Linked DNA regions of Homo sapiens. The protein of the gene in region 2 purifies or fractionates together with the protein of the main gene of each other region. This does not show direct contact. Each region holds a gene or a part of one and is shown on either strand. Other genes may lie near its edges.

Region 1 (3,500 bases), on a different chromosome or scaffold from region 2:
CACAAGCTGCCTAGCGTTGGTGTGTGACAAACACACGCACAAATATGGAGGGAAGAGGTCAAGGGGACTTCATGAGCTCATGCCTCTCCTTTCTCCAGCTTCGGCCAAGGGCAGCTGGATACAGACCAGCAGCTCCCTGGCCTTCCTAGGTGCCTTCTCCGGAAAGGACACCCCCTCATTAGATGCTAGTGGAAAATGCCAAAGTCCCACAGGACATCACTCCAGAACAACTTATCAGGGGACTCTCAATTCCCAAGGCTGGCTGTGGATGGGAATCACCTGGAGCGCCTTTTAAACAAAAGGTGCCAGGCCCCTTCCATTGTGGCCGCCAGTCTCATCTGCAGCCGGACACAGGACTGGGGCTTCATCTCCTGGGTCATCTCCCACCCAGGCCAGGTATCCAGCGGGACTTGGGCTTGCAGGATAGGGAAGGCAGTTTTAGCCACCCCCTCCTCCCTGTGGGGAACCTGCTCCAGGCTCAGAGAGGATGAGCCAGGAAGGAAGCTCCAGGGCAGCTGGTGAAGCCACTGGCCTCAGTTATTTGTAAGTAGCCAGTTTCGGTGGGGACTTCCGGCCCCCAGGAAGCTGTCCTCTGCTGTCCTCTCTCCGGCTCAGGGCCAGCTCCTGGGCCTGCCCGTGCTCCCTCTCCATGACATCGGCCTCCCTCAGTAACTAGCTCTGCACCAGGCCCTTTCCTTTTACCCCTCTGCCTCCCAGATTAAATCAGTTCTCCAGTCTGCAGTCTCCCCTCCATCCCCAGCGCCCCAGTCTTCTCTTCCCTCAGCCACTGCAGCAGTCTCCTTGGTCATCTCACTGCCCCGTCTCTCCCTTCCAATCTCCAGCCTCCCCAGGTGACCCAAGAGGTCACCCTATCACTTCCCCCTCCTCCAGGGGCCTGTGCCTGGCACTCAGGATGCACCCGCTCTGGCCGTAAGCTGGTTCATCCTCTGCCGCCTCCCTGTGCCTGTGGCTAGCCCCCCACCAGCACACCCCCACCAGCACGTCCCCACTGCCCGCTGCTCCCTCTGTGCTCCTCTACCATCACAAACCCCTTCCCACTGGGTCAGGGCCAGCACTGCCCTCGTTCCCTGAAGCCCGCACCCTCCGCTTCTGCTTGTTGTAAAGCCCTGGTGTCCTCTCAGCCTCCAAAACAGACTCAAACTCTCCCAGCCCCAGCCTAGGGCGTGGACGGGGCTTGCTGAATAAAACATGAGTGAAAGGGTGGGGGCTTTCCTTGGCTGGGCACACTCCCCCAAGACCCGCAAGCTCCCTGGCTCACCTCCTGGAGACCCGCTCCTCCAATGTGGACCATCCTTCTAGAAACTACCGCCCACATGCCCATGCCCAACCCCTGGGCCCTCTTTCCTGTCTGTCTATAGCCTTCACATTCAGTGTACGACTGACTTCCTCACCGTTCATTTGAGAATGTAAGAGCCTCGTGAAGGCAGGGGGCTGTACCTGACTGGCTCTCGGCTGTGTTCCAGCGCCTAGAACAATAGCAAGAGCTGCTGGCACGGGGTGGGTGCCATGTACATGCCTGCCCAAGGGAGGAAGAGCTGAATGTCGGGAGCCTGAAGGACAGCATGATGTGCAAGGAGAAAAAGGGACTTGGGCTGGACAACGTGAATTCCAGCCTTTCCTGCTAATCGCGTAAGGACTCTCTGCGTCCTCATATCAGCAAAAAACAAAACCTAAATGAAACCCAAACCCAAGCTACCCAGTGACAGCTGCCAAGCCAGGCTTCCCTGTGCACGTGCTCAGTGCTAGAAACAGTTGGCTTCTCCTGCTTTATTTTAATCTCAGCAGTGCCAAGCCCTGGAGATGAGCATCTCACACTGACTCTGGGAAGTTCAGAGCCAGCTACTGAGTGTATGGATAACGGGAGCCCACAGCTACCGAGTGTATGGATTCCGTGAGCAACAGGTGTAAAAGCCCCACACAAGCTGCCTAGCGTTGGTGTGTGACAAACACACGCACAAATATGGAGGGAGGAGGTCAAGGGGACTTCATGAGCTCACGCCTCTCCTTTCTCCAGCTTTGGCCAAGGGCAGCTGGATACAGACCAGCAGCTCCCTGGCCTTCCTAGGTGCCTTCTCCGGAAAGGACACCCCCTCATTAGATGCTAGTGGAAAATGCCAAAGTCCCACAGGACATCACTCCAGAACAACTTATCAGGGGACTCTCAATTCCCAAGGCTGGCTGTGGATGGGAATCACCTGGAGCGCCTTTTAAACAAAAGGTGCCAGGCCCCTTCCATTGTGGCCGCCAGTCTCATCTGCAGCCGGACACAGGACTGGGGCTTCATCTCCTGGGTCATCTCCCACCCAGGCCAGGTATCCAGCGGGACTTGGGCTTGCAGGATAGGGAAGGCAGTTTTAGCCACCCCCTCCTCCCTGTGGGGAACCAGCAAGTGCGTTTTACAGCCACACGCGGCATAACAGCATTTGGGTCAACGATGGACCACATGCCATGGTGGCCCCATAAGACTGTCACGGAGCTGAAACCTCCTGTCGCCTGGTGACCTCGCAGCCACCGTGTAGACGGAACACAACACACTCCTCACTTTGCGGAGGTGCTGGTATACACACACCCCCTGCACTGTCAGCTGTATAAACGTCTTGCACATACAATTACATACAGAACATAATACTTGACAGTGACAATAAACGCGTATGTTACTTGTTTATGTTACCGTACTATACTTTTTAATCAGTATTTTAGAGTGCATGCCTAGTTATTAAAAAAAAAAAGTTAACTCTAAAAGAGCTTCAGGGAGCTCCTCCAAGAGAGATTCTGGAAGAAGGCAATGTTTTGTTTTGTTTTGTTTTGTTTTGTTTTGTTTTGTTTTGTTTTGTTTTTAGACGGAGTCTCCCTCTGTTGCCCAGGCTGGAGTGCAGTGGCATGATCTCAGCTCACTGCAACCTCCGCCTTCTGGGTTCAAGCGATTCTCCTGCCTCAGCCTCCTGAGTAGCTGGGATTACAGGCACCCGCCACCATGCCTGGCTAATTTTTGTATTTTTAGTAGAGACGGTGTTTCACCATGTTGGCCAGACTGGTCTTGAACTCCTGACCTCAGGTGATCCACCCACCTAGGCCTCCCAAAGTGCTGGGATTACAGGCGTGAGCCACTGCACCTGGCCTGGCATTGTTATCCTAAGAGATGACAGCCCTGTGCCTGTCACTGCTCCTGAAGACCTTCCAGTGGGACAGGGTGTGGAGGCAGAAGGCGGTGATACTGTGGATCCTGACCCTGTGCAGGCCTAGCTAATGTGTGTGTCTGTGTCCTTAGCTTTAACAAAAATGTGTTGGAAGTAAAAAAAGAATTAAAAAATTTTTTAATAGAAAAAGCACATGTAGAAAAATAATATACAGTTGTGCAAGATGTTTGAGCTTTAAGCTAAGTGTTATTACAAAAGAGTCAAAAACTTACATTTTAAAAGTTTATTGGCTGAGTGTGGTGGCTCACGCCTGTAATCTCAGCACTTTGGGAGGCCGAGGTG
Region 2 (4,143 bases):
AAATGGTTCTATTATAAAGACACATGCATGCATATGTTCACTGCAGCGCTATTCACAATAACAAAGACATAGAATCAACCCAAATGCCCATCATTTGGCCATTTGGATAAAGAATGGATAAAGAAAATGTGGTACATATATACCACGGAATACTATGCAGCCATAAAAAAGAATGAGATCGTGTCCTTTGCAGGGACATGGATGGAGCTGGAGGCCATTATCCTTAGCAAATGAAGGCAGAAACAGAAAACCAAATACTGCATGTTCTCACTTATAGGTGGGAGCAAAATGATGAGAACACATGGACACACAGAGGGGAACAACACACACTGGAGCTTACTGGAGAGTGGAAGGTGGGAGGAGGGAGAGGATGAGGAAAAATAACTAATGGACACTAGGCTTAATAGCTGGGTGATGAAATAATCTATACAACCAACCCCCATGACACACATTACCTATGTAACAAACCAGCACATCCTGCACATATACCCGCGAAGTTAAAAAAGTTTTTTTTTAGTTGCTACTTTAAAAGGATGTGGGAATCATTGTAAACTCAAAAGTTAAAGATGTGCCAAGAGCTGTCTCCCACGAACTTGTTTAACAAACGTACTGACTTTGTATGTTGATCCAATACCCATGCTGGCCACTGGACATACCAGTACAAACAAGGCAGAATCTTCACTCTCCTCTAGCTCTTCTAATTCTCATGCACTAAGTGCCAACCTTAGCATAACTGGGCTGACAATCAGTGAATCAAATATCTAACTCTTATCCTACTCCAACGTTAAGAAAGAGACATGCGACTGGGTGCGGTGGCTCATGCCTGGAACCCCAGCACTTTGGGAGGCCAAGGTGGGCGGATCACTTGAGGTCAGGAGTTTGAGACCAGCCTGGCCAACATGGTGAAACCCCGTCTCTACTGAAAATACAAAAGTTAGCTGGGCATGGTGGTGCATGCCTGTAGTCCCAGATACTCTACTTGGGAGGCTGAGGCAGGAGGATTGCCTGAACCTGGGAGGCGGAGGTTGCAGTGAGTCGAGATCACGCCACTGCACTCCAGCCTGGGCAACAGAGTGAGACTCCATCTCAAAAAAGCAAAAGAGAGACACATGCAAAGGGCTTGCTCTTTCTTTCTCATCTTACCTATCTTATGTTTTCCTCCAGGATCAAGAGCAAGGAATTTGTTGCATAGAGGTGTTCAAGAAAGGGTGTTTTCAAACAGAGTCAGAAAAAACACAACTATACTGCGAGCAGCATACAAACCTGCTTTGGCTGCACTTCACTGCTCATGGCATAAGGCCACGAAGAGGCCAATAAAGGCTGGAGCTCAGGAGCATCAACCCAGATTCAAGGCTTCCTCTCTGGCACCCAACCATGAAGCTCCTTTTTCCTATCTTTGCCAGCCTCATGCTACAGTACCAGGTGAACACAGGTAATGTGGATTCCCAAGTTTAAGATGGGTAGATGAGAGGAACCAAGGATTTGGCTGCCCATGACAATGGAAACCCAAAGAGAGGAGACTGAAAGATTAGCTGTTCAAAAAGATGGCTAAAGAGCTTACCTATTGTATCAGTCATGCACTGATACATTCTCATAGGCCCCAACTGCCAGATTGTGTCCAGTGGAAACACCCAGGAAGCTACAGAGAAAGCAGGGTATTTTTTGTCTATTCAGAAACTATCCAAAATATAATGCTGCCTTCCTGCCCTGTATATGTCTATCATGCTAAGACTAAGCCCAGGTCTACCTCCTTTTAGCTCTATTTCTATCTTAAAAGCCCTTTTTTTTTAAAAAAAGTCCTGGGGTACTTGTGCAGGATGTGCGGTTTGTTACATAGGTAAATGTGTGTCATGGTTATTTGCTGCACCTACCAACCCATCGCCCAGGTATTAAGCCCAGGATGCATTAGCTATTTTTCCTGATGCTCTCCCTCCACCCAACAGGCCCCAGTGTGTGTTGTTCCCCTTCCTGTGAAACCACCTCTTGAAGCAAAGTTTCCTATCAGTTTGTGCTTGGTGTAGAAAGGAGGAAGTTCTTCCCTCATGCTCAAAAAAAAACCCTTTCAAGATCAAGTAAACAGGCCTGTGTTCTCCATCTTGAATTCTTTCAGGTTTTCCAGAGCCTTTATCGCTTCTCTCAGACTTTGTCTTCCTGAAAACCCCCAAACTACCATAAGGGCATCTAGGAATGCATTATAGCAAAAGGCTAAGCCAGGGGATTAACCATTGTTTTTGGAAAAGAAAGGAGAAGCACTGAGATTTGTTTCAGAATACAAGAATCATCCAGCTATTTGAAAAAATTAGCAAAGGGTTTCGGGGCAGGGAAAGTGGAAGTGTCAAAGATGCTTCTAATGTTTTTATCTTCTAATGTTTTTATCTTGGGACCCTAGGAAAAGGGTAGTACCATAAGCAAGTATGGCTGTGTCATCTTGGGTAAAGTCACTTAACCACTTTGAACTTCAATTTCACATGAGTATAATGGGGTTAATCAATGCAGCTGATTCCAATATAAGAATTTTTCTGTTTCCCGTTTGATGAGAAAACAATGTGGAAATGTATGCAAATATGCTTTGAAAATTAGCAGATGCTACATAAATCTCTTGTAATTTAGGGAAAATCATTGGGTTATTAAGATGAACAAGGGAGAAAAGCTTTCTTGATTCAGAAAAAAGAAACACGAGACATTAGGATGGAAAAGTCATTCAGCAGATAAAGATAAGGTACTAAGCCGAGCAGGAAATTTAGAATTATAGATAACAATACAGAAGTTACCTTGGTGGATATGAGGTTAAGGCTAGGATAATGAATGAGACTTCTGAGAGATAGAGTGTCCAAAGAGGCTAGAAGAGATAGAACACCATGCTTCAGGAATCACAGATCTAGTGATTGTTGAGAAGAGAGAAGTCATGGGCTACTGAGTTTGGTGAAAAGATAAGACTCCTGAAAATTCTATTGATTCTCTTTTGAACTTCTTTCTTAAATTAGTTTTATGATGGACTTGGCTCTCATTGGTATTTCCCAAGATTATGGAGATGGGATAGTGATGTCTGACAAGTACCTAAGATGCTAAGTTGAAGGTCTAAAATTCCATCCTAAAAGCAAATAATTACTCTATCATCTACGTGCCCTTTGCTTCTTAAAGTTACTCAAGGAAGGCAGACTAAACAGGAAATTTACTTTGGATTCAAGAGGGGCATAGAGACGCTCTCAGCCTGCCCATTTGCCTTCATCAACATTCCTAAACACTGGGCTTAAAATGTAGTATGAGTAAACTCTCTCTTAGTCTATCCATCTCCCACTAGCAGTTTTAACATCATCTCTAGTTATTAACCTTGGCTCAATGGCTTTCTCTTTTTTTATACAGAATTTATTGGCTTGAGACGCTGTTTAATGGGTTTGGGGAGATGCAGGGATCACTGCAATGTGGATGAAAAAGAGATACAGAAATGCAAGATGAAAAAATGTTGTGTTGGACCAAAAGTGGTTAAATTGATTAAAAACTACCTGCAATATGGAACACCAAATGTACTTAATGAAGACGTCCAAGAAATGCTAAAACCTGCCAAGAATTCTAGTGCTGTGATACAAAGAAAACATATTTTATCTGTTCTCCCCCAAATCAAAAGCACTAGCTTTTTTGCTAATACCAACTTTGTCATCATTCCAAATGCCACCCCTATGAACTCTGCCACCATCAGCACTATGACCCCAGGACAGATCACATACACTGCTACTTCTACCAAGAGTAACACCAAAGAAAGCAGAGATTCTGCCACTGCCTCGCCACCACCAGCACCACCTCCACCAAACATACTGCCAACACCATCACTGGAGCTAGAGGAAGCAGAAGAGCAGTAATGTGGATCTTTCCCTTAAAACTCCAAGTTCCTCTCTATTTTTGCTATCTATAAAATGACATAGAACTGTTTCCTCTGTCATCAGTCATTCAATAAACACTGTTTGAGCACCTACAGTTTATGTAATATTATCATTCTCACAAGAGCCTCACAGAGGGGGTAGAGCTAGGGAGGGATGGAATTGTTTAAGTTTAGATGCCCAGGAGAAAGTAAGCCTCAGGAGGGTGACTACAGCATCGAGTTTGTCCCAAGCATGGCCTAGATTAGGCCTCTGTAGCAAGCATTTA

The links. Proteins that work in one complex are often made in the same cells at the same time.
Region 1: the proteins of DEFB129 (region 2) and NSG1 purify together in Homo sapiens (affinity purification with mass spectrometry; one large-scale study listed by BioGRID and IntAct). This does not show direct contact.

Annotation. Positions count from the first base shown.
Region 1 is NC_000004.12:4,411,102-4,414,601, reverse strand, and holds part of NSG1 (neuronal vesicle trafficking-associated protein 1), read right to left. Parts: intron 1-3,500.
Region 2 is NC_000020.11:225,915-230,057, forward strand, and holds DEFB129 (beta-defensin 129 precursor), read left to right. Parts: upstream 1-1,343; 5' UTR 1,344-1,374; coding exon 1,375-1,432; intron 1,433-3,363; coding exon 3,364-3,857; 3' UTR 3,858-3,972; downstream 3,973-4,143. UniProt on the Homo sapiens protein: Has antibacterial activity.